Linked DNA regions of Homo sapiens: region 1 is linked to region 2. The links come from fine-mapping of genetic effects on gene expression. A gene starts in region 2. The other region holds a variant in brackets. All regions are shown on one strand. Distances are from middle to middle.

Region 1 (8,731 bases), 820 kb before region 2:
GAAAGGGTAGTGGGTGAGGGATAAAATACTATACATTAAATACAGTGTACACTGCTCGGGTGATGGGTGCACCAAAATCTCAGAAATCACCACGAAAGAACTTATGCATGTAACCAAACACCACCTGTTCCCCACAAAACCTATTGAAATAAAAAAATAAAAATAAAGTTGAACAGGAGAAAAAAAAAATACACTCATCACATGACCCAGAGATTCCACACTTAGATATTTACCCAAGAGAAAGAAAAACATATACCCATACCGAGACTTGTACACAAATGTTCATAGCAGCTTTACTCATAAAAACCAAAAACTGGAAACAATCCAAACGACAGATAAGTGAAAACACAAATTGTGGTGTATCCATACAACAGAACACTATTCAGCACAAAAGAGGATAAACTGCTGGTATGTGCAATGGCATGGCTGATTCTCAAAAGCATAAGTGATCTCTCAAAATGATGCCTCAGCCAGCAGAGGTGGCTCATGCCTGTAATCCCAGCACTTTGGGAGGCCGGGGTGGGCGGATCACTTGAGGCCAGGAGTTCGAGACCAGCCTGGCCAACTTGGCAAAAACCCCATCTCTACTAAAAAAACAAAAAACAAACAAAAAAAATGAGCCAGGCATGGTGGTGCATACCTGTAATCTTAGCTACTCGGGAGGCTGAGGCAGGAGAATTACTTGAACCCAGGAAGCAGAGGTTGCAGTGAGCTGAGATCACAATACTGCACTCCAGCCTGGGCAACAGAACAAGACTCCATCTCAAAAATCAAAAAAACAAAACAAAATGATGCCTCAAAAGTATGATGCTGGGTGCAGCAAACCACCGTGGCAAACCATGTAGGTAAACATGGTACAGGTTTACCATGTAACAAACCTGCACATGTACCCTAGAACTAAAAAAAAAAAAAAAAAAAGCAGCATGATGCCGGGCAAAAGAAGCCAGATACAAGAGTATGTGCTGTACTATTCTGTTGATATGAAATAGAAATAGTGACAAAAAGCAGATTGGTCACTGCCTAGAGCAGGGGCTAGGAAGGCAGGTTATCTACTAGGCAGGAGCAGGAAAGCAGCTATAGGTGTGGAAACGTTCTATGTCTTTTTTGGGTGGAGGGTGGTTACATGGTTGTATACATTTGTCAAAATGCATGGGTGCATTTTATTTTGTAAAAATTATGCCTCAATAAGTTGGAATTAAAGAAAAAAGAAAGAAAAAATATTTTTATGCCATTGGGGGTAGAGAAAGTTCTTTTTGAATAAGATATAAAAACTATAAACCACAAAAGACAAAGAGAATTCTACTACATTAAAATTTACAACTTCTGCATATCAGAAGACACCAACCTCAATATTAAAAAACAACCCACAGGCTGGGCACGGTGGCTCACACCTATAATCTCAGCACTTTGGGAGATCAAGGCAGGTGGATCACCTGAGGTCAGAAGTTCAAGACCACCCTGGCCAACATGGTGAAACCCCATCTCTACTAAAAATACAAAAATTAGCCAGGCGTGGTTGGTGGGCACCTGTAATCCCAGCTACTCCGGAGGCTGAGACAGGAGAATTGCTTGTACCTGGGAGGCGACAGAGCGAGGCTTTGTCTTAAAAAACAAAAACAACAACAACAACAAAAAAAACTCCGACAGACTGGGAGAGGATATTTACAACCCATGTAACAACAACAACAAAAGATTGGTATCCAGAATATTTTATAAACTATTATGAAGCAATCAGAAAAATACAATCTAATGAAAAATGGCTGGGATATCACTGGGCAAATCATAAGTGAAAAAATCAAATCATCCACAAGCATGTGAGAAGATGTCAACTCACTCTCAACCAGGAAAATAGAAATTAGAAATGGCAAAATGTGATCGTCAGATAACAGACTGTGGGCAGGGATGTGGGGAAATGGGATCCGTTTTGTGTTCCTAATGGTAGTGTATCTTCAGAGAACAAATTGATGAGGAATTTGGCAAGAGCTAGGGAATTTGAAGATGCACATCCCCACATCACCTGACATTTCTTCATTTAGCTATCTGCCCTGCAATGCTCAAGGTTATGTGCACCAGGTTAGGTGCTCAACATGTGTTGAGCACTGCCTTGTTTTTTTGCCTTTACTTTGTTTTTTGACACGGATCTCGTTCTGTCGCGCAGGGCTACAGTGCAGTGGCGTGATCACGGCTCACTGCAGTCTTGACCTCCTGGGCTCAGTGATCCTCCCACCTCAGCATCCTGAGTAGCTGGGACTACAGGCATGCTCCACCATGCCTGGATATTTTTTGTAGAGACGGGGTCTCATGGTGTTGCCCAGGCTTGCATTGTTAGCCCCGAAGTGGGAATATCCTAAATTTCTAATAATTGAGCAATAGGTAAAAAAAAAAAAAAAAAAAGTATAGCTATGCAATGGAATACTATCGAAGAATCAAAATGAATAAACTAGATCTAGATCTATATGTATGAACACGGTGAGATATATATATATATATATATATATATATATATATATATATATATATATATGAGAGAGAGCCGTATAGCAAGAGAGGGAATGCGCTACAGAAGGATATATACCGCCCAGAAAGAGAGGTGCTCAGCAGGACCCTAAGAAAGGGTTCCCACTGCAGCCCCATAAAAGGGGGCAGTGTTGGAGCAAGTGGACAGCTGAAAACTGCCTGCAAATAAGGAGTTTCCCAGACTCTGGGGTGTCTCTACAGAGACCCAATCCCCGGCTCTCTGACAGCGATGCAGGTCTTTTGAACGCCTGGGCTGCTGCTGCCCGCGCGCCTCCCCCGTGGCAATAAGCTATGAACAGGCGCTCGCAAGCGCTGCGATCCCACACCACCTGCGCGGTGCAGAATGCGAGATGAGCGAGCCCACAGGGCCTCCAGCTCTGTGCCGCATCACAGCCTCCCCTGCGTCTTTCTTCTCTGCTACCATCCCACTCACTTTGGCTCCACAGACTTGCTTTGAGGTTTGGCACTTCCACATTTTTAATATAAACTCAGATTCTGAAGACTCCAGCATCAAATCCTTATTTTAAAAAAAAAAAAAAAGACCCCCCAAAGAAACTGACTTCCTAACTTTCCACCTGCCCATTGTTTTCTAAAGAACAGGTGTTTGAGTAGCTTGTAGGTCGTAACCTTTTATCCCAAAAAAGAAATCTATTTTCTCCTTCCCATGCACTCTAACCTCAACAAACCCAAATCAGTTTGGAGATGGAGCCCTGCTTGATTTTATTTTATTTAGAGAGAGGGTCTCGCTCTATCACCCAGACTGGAGTGCAGTGGCACGATCACAGCTCACTGAAGCCTCCAACTCCTGGGCTCAAGTGATCCTCCCACCTTGGCCTCCCAAGAAGCTGGGACTACAGGTGTGCACCACCATGGCTAATTTCTTTATTTTTTGTAGAGAGGGGGTTTTGCTGTGTTGCCCAGGCTAGTCTCTAACACTCAGCCTCAAACGATCTTCCTGCCTTGCTTGGCCTCCCAAGGCCTTGGGATTGTAGGAACAGCCACCATGCCTGGCCATGACTTCTGATCTCCCTTCTGAGATTTGGTTGTAGGAAGGTGGGGGATGGATGGATGTGTCCGAGGTCTGCCTCTAACCACATTTCTTTCTTTTTCTTTTTTTCTTTTTAGATGCAGTCTTGCTCTGTTTGCCCAGGCTGGAGTGCAGTGGCGTGATCTTGGCTCACTGCAACCCCTCAAGCGATTCTCCTGCCTCAGCCTCCCAAGTAGCTGGGATTATAGGTGCCCGCCACCACACCCGGCTAATTTTTTTGTATTTTTAGTAGAGATGGGGTTTCACCATATTGGCCAGGCTGGTCTTGAACTCCCGAGCTCAAGTGATCTGCCCACCTTGGCCTCCCAAAGTGTTGGGATTACAGGCTTGAGCCACTGCACCCGGCCTCTTACCGTATTTCTATCTGAGCCTGCCTTTGCTTGTCTTCGGTGGGGGAATTGAGAATCCATTGGTATCTGAGCTGGAGAGGATCAACAAAGCTGTATGAAGCCCCCTTGGTACAGATCAGAGAAACCTGCTGAGAAAAGAGAACCACTTCCCTGCCTTCCCTTGGAAGCCCAAGTGTTTCCTGTGCCTTTCATATCCGCCCTCAAGGCTGGCCCATGTGGACTGCATCAATGTCTCCCTTGCCTCTGACTTTTAGTTGGATCTGGCTCCTGGGATTCTCTGGCCCAAGACGGGAATGAGAGACGATAGGGAGGAAGGCCCTTTATTCCCTCCAGGGCCACCCTCCTTGAAGGTCACAGCCCAGAGGGGCTATCACATGGCCTTTGGTTTTTTCCCCATCCCACCCACAACCAGATTTTTGTGACAGTATCCGGAGAGTGAAATAAACCTGCATTGCCATTTTCTCAGCAATTTCCGTCTCCCACTCCCTCTTCTCTACCAATGCACTCACAGCATCTATGTGCAGTGCCTTCCACATTCTAGACGCTGGAAGGATGCTGCCGGGAGAGGGTTGGATGTAGTCCCTGACTTCGAAGAGATGTTGGTGTGTCCAGAAGAGGGAGGTGCAGGCACAGAGCTGCCAGTGCCAACATGAGGGCAGAACTTCTGACCATCTGACCATCTAAAAGGCAGCCTCTCGGGCTTTCCTGTATCTCTTTACTAGATAATCTTTACTAACCTTTAATAGAGTAAAGATTAAATGACAAAGGTGGCCAGGAGCAATGGCTCACACCTGTAATCCTAGCACTTTGGGTGGCCAAGGTGGGCGGATCACTTGAGGTCAGGAGTTCGAGACCAGCCTGGTCAACATGGTGAAATTCCGTCTCTACTGAAAATACAGAAATTAGCCGGAAATCACTTGAACCATTGGGGGGGGGGGGTGCAGACATTGCAGTGACCTGAGATTGTGCCATTGCACTCCAGCCTAGGCAACAGGGCGAGACTCCATCTCAAAAAAAAAAAAAAAAAAAGGCCAGGCACAGTGGCTCACATCTGTAATCCCAGCACTTTGGGAGGCTGAGGCGGGTGGATCACCTGAGGTCAGGAGTTCGAGACAAGCCTGGCCAACATGCTGAAACCCCATCTCTACTAAAAATGCAAAAACTAGCTGGGTGTGGTGGTGCACCCCTGTAATCCCAGCTAGTGGGGAGGCTGGGATGGGAGAATTGCTTGAACCTGGGAGGCGGAGGCTGCAGTGAGCTGAGATCGTGCCACTGCACTCCAGCCTGGGCAACAGAGCAAGACCCTATCTCAAAACAAACAAAAAGATTAAACAAGAAAGATGATCGATAATAACTTGGCATTTATAAGTACCATCAGTCACTCAAGATTTTCCAAGCACTTTTCACAGGGGAGGCCTGTGCTAAGTACTCCAGCACTGAGGGCAGGTGTACAAGGCAGGGTACCACTCCTTTTCTGCCCTTCCTTGAAGAGTGCAGTCTTTTGGGGGAATCAGGTGAGTGAGTGGTCAACGTGGCTGAGGGATTTCTGGTGAGACAGC[G/A]GCCAGTGGGCCCTGGAGTGAGTGAGGAAGTTCTTGGAACAGCAGGGATTTCACTAATGCTCTCCTCCTACGTGGAAGGGGCTCATTGAGTCCAAGTCCCCAAAAATGCTTACAGAACAAAGTGGTTTAAAAAAATCTAAATCACAACTGCTGGACTCTTATGTCATCTAGTGACTAACCAGTTCCTGACCAGGTATTTGAACTGCTGGGAAGTTGCCATCTTGAATGGATGCCTGGCAGCAGCCATATCAGTTTTCCCAGGGGACCTTGCGAGCAGCTCCACACACAGGACCTGGGAGTGGGCCCGGGGGGATGGATTCAGGTCGCTTTGTAGGACAGCATGCCCAGCTCTTCCTTCCTACTAACAATAGCAAAACCCCTCATCACCCTCATCACAAGCCAATCTGCCAACAAGTGTTCATTCAATAGCTGCTGTCTCTGCCCCTGCTGTTACCCCAGCTGTGGTGGTCAGTGGGGAGGAGTGAGCTGTTTGCTGAGAAGAGGTGAGATGGCGAGTAATAGTAGTAATAATAATAACAATAATAATAAAGACAGTGGGCCAGGCGAGGTGGCTCACTCCTGTAATCCCAGCACTTTGGGAGGCCAAGGTGGGAGGATCACTTGAGCCCAGGAGTTCAATACCAGCCTAGGCAACAAAATGAGACCCTGTCTCTGAAAACAAATAAAAAGGTAACGTATCTTCTAAAATTATCTTTTCTAGACTTTGTGTAAGACTGAAAAAAATGAAGCCAAGCCCACAATGGCTCACACCTGTAACCCCAGCACATTGGGAGGCTGAGGCAGGAGGACTGCTTGAGCCCAGGAGTTCAAGACCAGCCTGGGCAACATAGCAAGACCCCCTCTCTCCAATAAATAAATAAATTAGCTGGGTGTGGTTGCATGCATCTATAGTCCCAGCTACTTGGGAGGCCGAGGCTGGAGGATCACTGGAGGCCAGGAGTTGGAGGCTGCAGTGAGCTCTGATTGCACCACTACACTCCAGCCTGGGCGACAGAGTGAGACCCTGTCTCTAAAAATTAAAAAAAGAAAAAAGAGAGAGAATGCACAACAAATGTTATCTGTGTCCTAGGCCAGCTGAGGGCTTCCCATGAATCTTCTCACTAAGTCCTTGCTGGAGCCCTTTGAAGGAGGCATCAGCATCCTCAATTACAGATGAGGAGACTAACAGGGAAACAGCATGTGACCTGTCCAGTGATTCAAAAGTGCCTTCTCCACCGTGGTGCCAGACTGACCTCCGAGAAGACACTGACCAGAAGGCATAGCAAGGTTGACAGCTGACGGGTGCAGCTGGAGGCCAGGCAGGCTGGAGCAGGGGCCTGGAGAGGGGATGTGGAGTGGCAGGGAGAGCCTCTGCTGAGGCCTTCCTGGGCTAGGCCAGGGGGTCAGGGCTGCAGGGGGAGGGTGGAGAGGGGGAAGAGGTGGGGGTGGAGAGAGCCCAGGAGGGGAGCCTGGCCTGCAGTGGTGCTTCAGGCAGAAGCGGCCCTCCCACCAGCCCCTTTCCAGTCACATAAAGCTGGGTTTGTTTCCATTTATCTGCTTGACTTTTCAGCCAAGATGCTGTTTGAAAAACATATTGCTCTAATTTAATCCACATGTGCACCCCCAGGACAGAGTCTAAAGAAAGCTTCCGTCACGGCCCCAAAGTCTCAGCCTCATGGAGGTGGTAGGGGTGGGCCTTGTGGGTGACCCCAACCCACCTTTAAGGGCCCACCCTAAAGCCAGGGCCCACCCTACTTCTGTCCTGGACAAGCGGGTGGGGGTGTTGGTGGGACAGGGGACTCCCAAGGTAGTGTCCATGGCCCGCTCCCTGCACCTGCCCACAGGGGAAGGATGCAAAGAGCAGGAGGCCAGTGGACACAGTGGGCATGGGCTTGGGGTAGGGTTGGTGCATGAGGGGGTTTGACTTTTTTTTTTTTTTTGCAATGGAGTCTCACTCAGTCTGTCGCCCAGGCTGAAGTGCAGTGGCATGATCTTGGCTCACTGCAACCTCCATCTCCCAGGTTCAAACAATTCTCCTGCCTCAGCCTCCCAAGTAGCCAGCACTACAGGTGTCCGCCACCATGCCTGGATAATTTTTTTTTTTTTTTGAGACAGAGTCTCGCTCTGTCCCCAGGTTGGAGGGCAGTGGCGCAATCTCGGCTCACTGCAACCTCCACCTTCTGGGTTCAAGTGATTCTCCTGCCTCAGCCTCCCGAGTGGCTGAGGTACAGGTGCATGCCATCATACCTGGCTAAATTTTTGTATTTTTAGTAGAGATAAGGTTTCACCATATTGGCCAGGCTGGTCTTGAACTCCTGATCTCAAGTGATCCACCCACCTCAGCCTCCCAGTGTTAGGATTACAGGTGTAAGCCACAGCGCCTGACCCAGCTACCTTTTTTTTTTTTTTTTTTTGGTATTTTTAGTGAAGACAGGGTATTGCCATGTTGGCCAGGCTGGTCTCAAACCCCTGACCTCAAGTGATCTGCCCACCATGGCCTCCCAGAGTGTTGGGATGACAGGTGTGAGCCACCACACCTGGTCAAGGGGGCTTTGACTTCTAATCAGTTCCTTTCCCTCCCTTCCTCAGATACAGACCCAAACTCTGGGGCACACAGTGGTGACATAAGGCAGTTTATCCAAGCATGTGGAGTTGGGGGAGATGCTGTCTACAGGGTGGAAGCCAGGATGAGCCAGGAGCAGGGCTCTGAGATGGGGCACAGGACCACCTACGATCTCGCCTGAGCGCCTGGCTGCATATGAGGTGAGTTTAGGAAGCTTGTCTCACAGCCACACCCCACTGGCAAGAAGCCAGCAGGGAGCAAAACCAGTATGTTCATTTCAGTATTCTCTCCCAAGTGTGTGCCTGTCACATATCTTATTTTGAATCAAATTATGTATATTATTTGGAGGGATTGATTGCTGAAAATGAGAAAAGCTAGAAGGACCTGTCTCACACAGGTTTATTCAGAACTGAGACCAGAGATACAGCACTGGAGCATAGAACTGAAATGTCTGACTTTGATTCAGGGCCTAGGACCCTTCTGGTGTCCTACGAGTCAGGATCCTGGTGCACTGGTCCATGCAGAAATGACACTTCTCTTTCCTTCTAGAGTCATTCCCTCCACTCCACAACTCATTGTCCGCTTGGACTAGGCTGGATTCCCAAGCAAAGAACAATGCAGGAGGATTGCTTGAGCCCAGGAATTCAGAACCAGCCTGAGCAACATAGTGAGATTCTGTATCTACAAAAAATTT
Region 2 (8,731 bases):
CATCTACAATTTATTTTGTATGTTGTGCTGTCGTGTAATAAGATAGTGGCCTAGTGTAGCTCTAGTCTTATCTGTGGAGATTCCTGGGTATCCATCTTTATCCCTTGGTCAAGATAAATTAGTGGGATTTATAATGAGCTCATTAAAATCTAAAATTCCTCATAGTCCCAAGGGCCGATGTGTCTACCAATGGCTTTTGCTGTGGTCTGAATATTTGTATCCCCCCAAAATTCCTATGTTGAAACCTAATCATCAATATGGGACTCATTTGAACCTAAACTTCCACCAAAACACAAACCTGAAACTTTGTCTCCCTTCATACACGACACCTTCTTCCATAACCTCACATGGCAAAAGGAGCAAACAAGCTTGGGCCTCTTTTATAAGGACATCAATCCATTCATAAGAACTCCAGCCTCATAACTTAACATTTCCTCAAAGGCCTCACCTCTTAATATTGTCACACTGGGGATTCGGTTTCAGCATATGAATTCTGTGGCGGGGGCGGGGGACAGACATTCACATCATAGCACACCCTGAATCTTAAACAGCTTCTGCATCAGAGTAAACTGGCTTTTCTTCTCCAAAGTTCATATTCTAAAATGTGCCCTTGACCAGATAAATCCCAACAGCAAAAATTACTGATTGTAAACACTGCATTATTTTAAATAGGAAAGGGACAGAAGGCAGCTAAGAGCTAGTGGAAGGGAGTGGGTTGAGTATTGCATGTAATGTGTTTTAGTTTCTCCTTATTGCTCTCTCTCTCTGCTTCATTTTCTTTCTCAAGTGTCTGGCATATTTGTTTAAATCAGACTTGCTTATGCCTATGATTCTCTCTACCTCACACCCCTGATTTCTGTTCCTCAGTCTCTATTCCAGTGCCTCTAACCTTTCTGCTAACAATGCAAGTCAGGGTGTCACTGGAAAAGGGGTCTCGATCCAGACCCCAAGAGGGTTCTTGGATCTTGTTCAGGAAGGAATTTAAGATGTGTCGCAGAGTGCAGTGAAAGATGCAAGTTTATTAGAAGCTACACCATTAGTGAGCAGGAGGCCCTCAGAAAACAAGAGGAGGAATGCACTGGCTTTAAGTTTTTCTTATATAGGGGTCTTATCTATGAAAAAACTAAGCTAAGCTGGGTCTATGTGTGGGTGAGCAGGCAGAATAAAAAAAATTATTACAGTATTCATTTAAACTAACCTGGACATTCCAGTGTGTAAGTACATCAAAACATAGCTATTATCTTCAAAGCATATATTGTTACGGGTATTGGGACATCTGGACTCTGCACTGTTGTAGGAGTGTCCCTGTAGGTATCTTTAGGCTGTTTCCTCAACTATAAACACCCCATGACTATGGGCCATGACCGACAAGGAATGTGCTTTGCTAGTCTCAAAATGGAACTATACTTAAAATGGCATCCTCTGGCTCTCTTATACTCCTGCTTCCCTAACGATGGGGCATTCACAAGTTAGGGGTTTAACTTCACAGGAATGCTTTTTATGAGATGGCCAGACATAGCTATTGAAACAAAAGGACTAGCCCTCCATTTAAAGTTCTTCTCACCTATGCCCTGAGTCACATCTAGTCCTTTAATGTTGGCCCTCTCTCCACTCATGAACTTAACTCATATTCCAAATATCTGAGGACTCATAATGGGAAACCACCATAATTCTTCCAGTGAGATCATGAGGAAAAGCAGAAACAATGAAAAATCCCTATGTAAGCTTTTCTGGATGGACTGAGCAGGGACTTTATGTCTTAAGTGTGGTTTAAAGTGGTTCCAAAGTGGCAGGGATCCTGGTCTTGTCTGAAAGGAAATTATATAATCTCTAGAAGAGAAAGGCACTTTCATCTAAGGATATGGGAAAGCTACATGAAATCTCTTTTCAAGGACAAAGATAACCAACAAAAAAGGAAGCAAAGCAAACTGATTGAAGAATTTGGAAATAAACATCCAAACGGGCCCACAAAATCTTCAGTTATTGTTATTATCAGATACATATTATGAAGCAACTATACCTACCATGTTAAAAAAGTTTGGAAAATTGAAATTAAAATGTCCTGGAGAGATAATTATGAATGGGCAATAGATCGGAATAAATTATCCAGAATGCAACACAGAGATTGAAGGATGAAAATCACAGAGAATTTAAGACACCTGGAGGATAGAGGGGTAACACCTGCCTCATAACGAATTGGGGTTCTCAAAGCAGAGAAACAATGGTGAAGAGGCAATATATGGGAGAGGAAGAGTTTGCTGATTACCAGAGATGACACATCACAGATTCAAGTTGTTCAGCAAATCCCAAGCAGGAAAGAATTTAAGAATTTCATAACCAGAAACATTATGCCAAACTCCAGAAAACACATTCAGTTACTATTTCAGTTGAAAGCCCAGGATTCTAAGTGGGAAACGATCTTAATAACCTAGTCACTGCACTATCTCACTATCTCCTTAAACCTCATTTTTTCCTATGTCTCTTGCATTTTAATATTAAAAAGGTCATCATTCCAAAAGAACTTGACCAAAAGACCTGCAATTCTCAGAGAAGGGAATACTAAGACCAATAGACATTCAAAAAGATTCTCAATCTCATTAACAATTAAAAAATGCAACTTTAAGCCACAGTGAGTTACTATTTCACACCTAGTAGATTATTAAACTTTTAAAGTTTCACAAAGAGAGTGTTGGCAGTAAGAGTTGGCAAGCAAAATAACCATAAACTCTGGTAGGAGTGAAAATTGGTACAACTTTGGAAAACAATTCATGATTGTATAGTAAAATCATAGATGGAAACATGCTTTGCACAATCCAGTCTTTCCTTATTACATACTCTAAGCCTTGAGAGGAAGCCAGCTGATGCCAGTGTTTTTTAAAACTGTGGCTGCTATAGGAATTCACAACCACACCCACAGGATACACCAAGGTAGAACTGTCAGAGGTGTTTAAACCAGAGCGACTCCATCTTGAATAGGGCCTGGGTAAAATGAGGCTGAGACCTACTTCCCAGACACTTAAGGCATTCTAAGTCACAGGATAACATTGGAAGTCGGCACAAGCTACAGGTCAGGTCATAAAGGCCTTGCTGGTTAAACAAATTGCAGTAAAGAAGCCAGCCAAAACCCACCAAAATCAAGATGGCGAGGAGACTGACCTTTGGTGTCCTCACTGCTGCTTGTTATGTGTCCGGAATTGGTTCCTTCTGGTGGGTTCCTGGTCTGGCTGGCTTCAGGAGTGAAGCTGCAGACCCTCGCGGTGTGTGTTACAGCTCATAAAGGCGGTGCGTCTGGAGTCGTGCTGGAGTTGTTTGTTCCTCCCGGTGGGTTCATGATTTCGCTGGCTTCAGGAGTGAAGCTGCAGACCTTCACAGTGAGTGTTACAGCTCCTAAAGACGGCGTGTCTGGAGTTGTTCGTTCCTCCCAGTGGGTTTGTGGTCTCGCTGGCTTCAAGAGTGAAGCTGCAGACCTTCAGGGTGAGTGTTGCAGCTCATAAAGGTAGTGCAGACCCAAAGAGCAAAAGAACAAACATCCCACACCTGGGAAGTAGACCCCAGCGCGGTTGCCGCTGGTTGTTCGGGTGGCCCGTTTTTATTCCCTTATTTGGCCCCGCCCACATCCTGCTGATTTGTCCATTTTACAGAGCGCTGATTGGTCTATTTTACAGAGTGCTGTTTGGTCCGTTTTTACAGAGTGCTGACTGGTGCATTTACAAACCTTTAGCTAGACACAGAGCACTGATTGGTGTATTTACAATCCTTCAGCTATACAGAAAAGTTCTCCAAGGCCCCACCTGATCCAGAAGCCCAGCTGGCTTCACCTCTCGGTTATATGCTAATTATATGCATTAGCACGCTAAGAGAAACGCTCATCAGTGCCATGGCAATTTACAAATGCCATGGTAAGGTTCAGAAGTTACCCTGTATGGTTCAAAAAGCTGGGAAGCCCTCAGCTCCGAGAAATTGAAATTGCCCACCTCTTTCCTGGAAAACTCATGAATAATCCACCCTTGTTTAGCACATCATCAAGCAATAAATACAAGTATCCCTAGTCCAGCAGCCCAAGCTGCTGCTCTAACAATGGAGTACCCATTGTTTCTTTACTTTCTTAATACACTTGCTTTGGCTTTGCACTGTGCTCTCCCATGGATTTTTTCTTGCGTGAGCTCTAAGAACTCTCTCTTGGGGTCGGATCCGGACCCCTTTCTGGTAACAGAAGCACTGCTTCACGAAGATCATGCAGGTCAGTACTTAATAAGTACAAAAAAGTCTATAGCGACACTATTTATAATTTTAAAAATGATTGAAGTCAATTAACATTTAAGTGTTAAAAAGAAAGTAAACAACCCAAATATACACAAACAGTAGACTGCTCTGGCTTGCATACAGAGAGGTCCATTGCCCTTTTGGGTGGGCCTAAGAAGCACTTCTGGGGAGAGGGGGCGTCAGGCTGTGATGGCTGCGGGAGGAGTGACTCCTCCCAGGATGAGGGTCTCCATCCTCCCAGTGCTCACTCAAGTTCAGTATTTCCAAGTCCTTCCAGGGGCGTAACGCACGTCAGAACGGCCATTAGTGTCACAGATACGTGTCCCCTTGCATTTCCAGGAAATGCCCTTGGTTGGCGAACTACAGTCGTGACAGTCGGGCCACAGGGCGTTTTGTGAGTTATCGTCTTGGGCAAATGAGTGCCAAAAAAAAAAAAAAAAAAAGACCTGAAGGTGAACAGCATAGCGGCAGGGTTTGGGATGAGAGGAGCCCCTTTGCTAGCAACGGCGAGCACTTGCGCGGTACCAGCAAGGGCTGCCCATGTCTCGGAGGGAAACGTTTGTGTGAGCGCAGGAATGACCCGGAAGACCTTGGCACGGCTGCAGTTTTCTGGGAAATGTAATTTCTTGGTCCGGGCGCCATGGCCCTTATAAGTAGAGGGTGTCCCTTGGTTTCGAGTTGTATCGTTCACCAGAGGACGACTGTGTGCCCCAGGACAATTTGCGCATGGTCCTAGCTGGCCGGCTCTAGGTCGACGGCCCCAGGCGGTTAAGCTACTTACAAAGCCGTGACCGGTTTGCCCGCGGCGCACCAGGTCCGCGCAGCCGCAGAGACCCTTGGGAAGTGTGGTCTTCGGGTGCCGGCGGTTCGCGGCTTCCGGGACATTTGTACCGCAGGGGGAGGATTCTGGGAAATGTGGTTCGCCGTGGGCGGTGCACTGGGTCAGTCCCGCGATAGCTTCAGGCCTGGCGGCGGCTTCCAAGCTAAGGAACGGTTTGGGGCAGTGTCGTTCCCGGAGGTCGGCCGCCGTTACCCGCTCACCAGCTACGCGGCGCGTCAGGTCCGCGGAGGCGCGGGCTCGGGGCGCCTGCGGGACGGTGAGGCCCTGCTGAGGACTCCGGCAAGTGTGGGTCGCGGCGACGGCGGGGCTAAGGCCCTGGGTCCGCGCGCGGTTTGACCACGGCCGGGGCCTTGGGCATTTCCTGGCCTTCCTGTTGAGCCGTGTAAACGCGGGGTGATGACGGCGCCGACCTCTTGGCACTGTTGTGAGAGCGAAGTGGGCGCGAGAGCAGACGCCAGCTACAGTTTTTTTTGGGTTATGTCGTCATGAAGCCGGCGCTTTCAGTTGTGCAACCTTGAACAAATGGGTTCAGTATCTCGGAATTTCAGTTTTGTCTTCATTTTAAAAAATAAATCTGGTTTAGAACTCGACCTCAAGCGATCCGCCCGCCTCCGCCTTCCGAAGTGCTGGGATTAAAGGCGTAAGCCACCGCACCAGCCTAACGAACATGGCGAAACGCCGTCTCTACTAAAAATACAAAAAAAAATTAGCTGGGCGTGGTGGCACGTGTCTATAATCCCAGCTATTCGAGAGGTTGAGGTAGGAGAATCGCTTCAACCCGGGAGGCAGAGGTTGCAGTGAGTCGAGGTCGCTCCATTGCACTCCAGCCTGGAGACAGAACGAGACTCCGTCTCAAAAAAAAAAAAAAAAAAATCTGGAATAATATGAATGCACACCTTGCAAAGTGGTGAAGACTGAACGAGCTGATAAAGTTGTTACCGTTGTTTTATGAGTCTTTTGTATACAGAATAATTGATTTTCCCCGCAGGTGGCACCTGGTAAATAGCCCTTGCGGAGAAACACCCTGTTCCTTCCCAGGGAGAGATTGACGCTCCGGCGAGTGATTACCAGTGTGCTTTTCCATTAAGGTGTGTGACAGGTGCCGCAAGATAAGCCCGATTTTTCATGACTGCTTTTTCCTGCCTTTCTGTGCCCTCAGGACACTGCCCATCTCTAAGATAAGAACCTGGAAAGGGGACTCTGTTGGCCATTGGAAATTGCAGAATAATGTCTCAGGTAAGTCGGTGTGTCCCCAAATCTTCCTGAAACACTTTATTAGGCCTCTGTGTGTTTGCTTTGCTTCTCCTGCCTGTTCCCACCTAATCAAGTCCATTTAAGGGACTAGATCTATGGTTCCTTTCACTATAGGAAGAATGGAGCCCACAGGAGAGCTCCAAGGTATTGTCCTCATCACCCAGTGTTCCTCTTTTCTACAGTTTTCTGCTAGAAGACTTTCTAGATTGCCAACATTTTAAAACTGTAATTCACAATGCAACTTTGGAATGTAAGGTTATTCGGTTTATGGTTGTCAAAACTGTACCATGTGGTCTCAAGTGAAGAGATGTTTGGAGTCATCCTTGATTCTTCCTTTTGACTTATAACTCATATTCAGGTCCTCTAGTTTGGATCTAAACGATACACCGTATACAGCATCTGACCATTAGTTAGCCCATCACCACCACCACCACTACCACCCCAGTCCGAGCCACCTGGATTATTGCGGTAGCCTCCTAGCTGGATTCCCAGCATCTGCCCTTAACCCTCATCAGTCTGTTCTCAGTACAGCTGTGACCATGGTCCTATTGTTATATAAATTCCTGTCATTCCGCAACCTAAAATTTTTCAGTGGTTCTAACTGAGTCACTTCTGCAATGACCTATTTGTACAATTAGGCCATTACCTCCCTGATCCCACCTTCCTTCTCTGCCTCCTCATTCCTGTGCGCTCCAGCCTCTGTCACCAGTTGCTGTGCCATCCACGTGGAATATTCTTCCCCCACATACGCACAAGCTTGCATCCTTATCTCCTTCTGTGTTTGTTCCGTGGTTACTTTCTCAGAACAGCTTCCCTGAAAGCCTATTTGCAATTGCAGTCACCTTCCCTAGCGCTTCCACTCCTCCATCACTGCTTTGTTGTTTTCCACAGTGTGTGTCACTCACTAGCTGATGTACTGTATGTTCAGTATATGCACGTGCTCATTGTCTGTTCCTGGTGGGAGGAATGCTTTTTCTTCTTTGTTGACTGTTATAGCGTCAGTACCCAGAGTGTTACCTGGCACCAAATGGATGCTTAGTAAGTAATTGTGGAGTGAATAAGATGAGTAATGAAGAACTGGTGGGGCAGAATCATGGCATGGAAGGTGAAGCTTGCACAGGAGGGGATGTAAGTAGCAGATGTACATCTTGGGTGAAGTCTGTTTTCATGGAATAATTAAGATAATTAGAATTGAAAAACTGGTGTGGTAGTGCATGCCTGTTGTCCCAGTTACTCGGGAGGCTGATGAGGTAGGAAGATTTCTTGAGCCCTCTGGTGTAAGCCTGTAGTGAGCTATGATTATGTCACTGCACTCCAGCTTGGTGACAGAGCAAGAACCTGCCTCTTGAAAGAAAAAACAAAGTAAAGGCTAAAGTGAACTAATGCCAAAACCATTCATTGGTTCATCTTCTAAACACTTATGAAGTACCTGTTAGGAAGAGTTGTACATGGATTTTGGTGTACACTGACACACAGGACTTCATGATCTAGTGCAGTATTGTCTAAGAGAACTTTCTGCAGTGGTGGAAGTGCTGTGCATGTGTACTGATCAGTACGGTAGCCAACAGCCCCATCTGACTATTGAGTACTTGAACTGTGGCTTAAGCAATGGAGAAAATAAATTTTAAATTTTATTTAATTATTTTATTTTTACATTTTAATTAATTTAAATGTTGTAGCCAAGTTGGCTAGTGGCTCCTGTATTGAAGATTGTGGCACTGGTAGAAAAGTAAGAAAGCATGGGAAATTTAAATAAGTGCTAGGATAGATATCCTATGTTCTTTTGGGAACTGAGATGAGTGAACATCTCAAGCTGCCCAGGCAACTGAAGGGGAAGAAAGAAGCATCCCTGGCTCTAAGTTGTAATGACTGGTTTGTCAAAGATATGAGAAATGTTATTTTTATTTGGGATATAGGCAATTAACACAGTGGCAACTCCAATTAACAGGTGAATTTAGAAGAAATTTTGTGTAGCAAATTGAACTGTCAAATCTTACTTGAGGATAAGTTATTGTTTATTTGGAAAATGTGTGTTGGATTGTATCTGCTTGCCTATATAAAAAGATGAGATTTCTTCCTGTCCTTTTCATCTCAATAGTGGATCGCTTGTGAAGTGCATCAAGGTCTGATTTAGCTTATTCAGTAATAAAACTGCTTTCTTTTTTTTTCTACATTTGTGGAGAGGATTTTCTGCCATTGGAAGGCGATTCGAATTTTAATTATTTTCTCCAAACCTGAGAAAAGTAAATTCTGCCTTTAAAACCAAAGATCCATGTCACTGGTGAACATGCATGCAAAATATCCAAATAAAGTAATACAATACTGAATGAACTCTCAGAGCTAAAAAATTACCACAGTAGAGCAGTCTGTTTT

What was found. PIP is the estimated chance that this variant, and not a neighbour inherited with it, causes the effect.
Region 1: its variant is fine-mapped to the expression of SCGB2B2 in subcutaneous fat (FUSION, PIP 0.95).

What each region holds. Positions count from the first base shown.
Region 1 is chr19:33,856,392-33,865,122 of GRCh38, forward strand. No RefSeq gene overlaps it. Among named protein-coding and RNA genes, the nearest start is that of SUNO1, 44 kb to the right of the region's middle. The variant G/A (reference allele first, on the strand shown) is at 5,475.
Region 2 is chr19:34,672,474-34,681,204 of GRCh38, forward strand. SCGB2B2 (secretoglobin family 2B member 2) reads right to left here and starts at 4,686. Exons shown (of 4, transcript NM_001025591.4): 1 at 3,157-4,686. It overlaps ZNF302 (zinc finger protein 302), which reads left to right and starts at 5,205. Exons shown (of 5, transcript NM_001289187.2): 1 at 5,205-5,630; 2 at 6,264-6,340. The coding sequence starts at 6,332. It also overlaps the pseudogene ZNF807P and the pseudogene SCGB1B2P. RefSeq lists enhancers at 4,177-5,074, 4,734-4,833, 4,884-4,943, 5,075-5,971, 6,829-7,330 and a silencer at 5,394-5,453.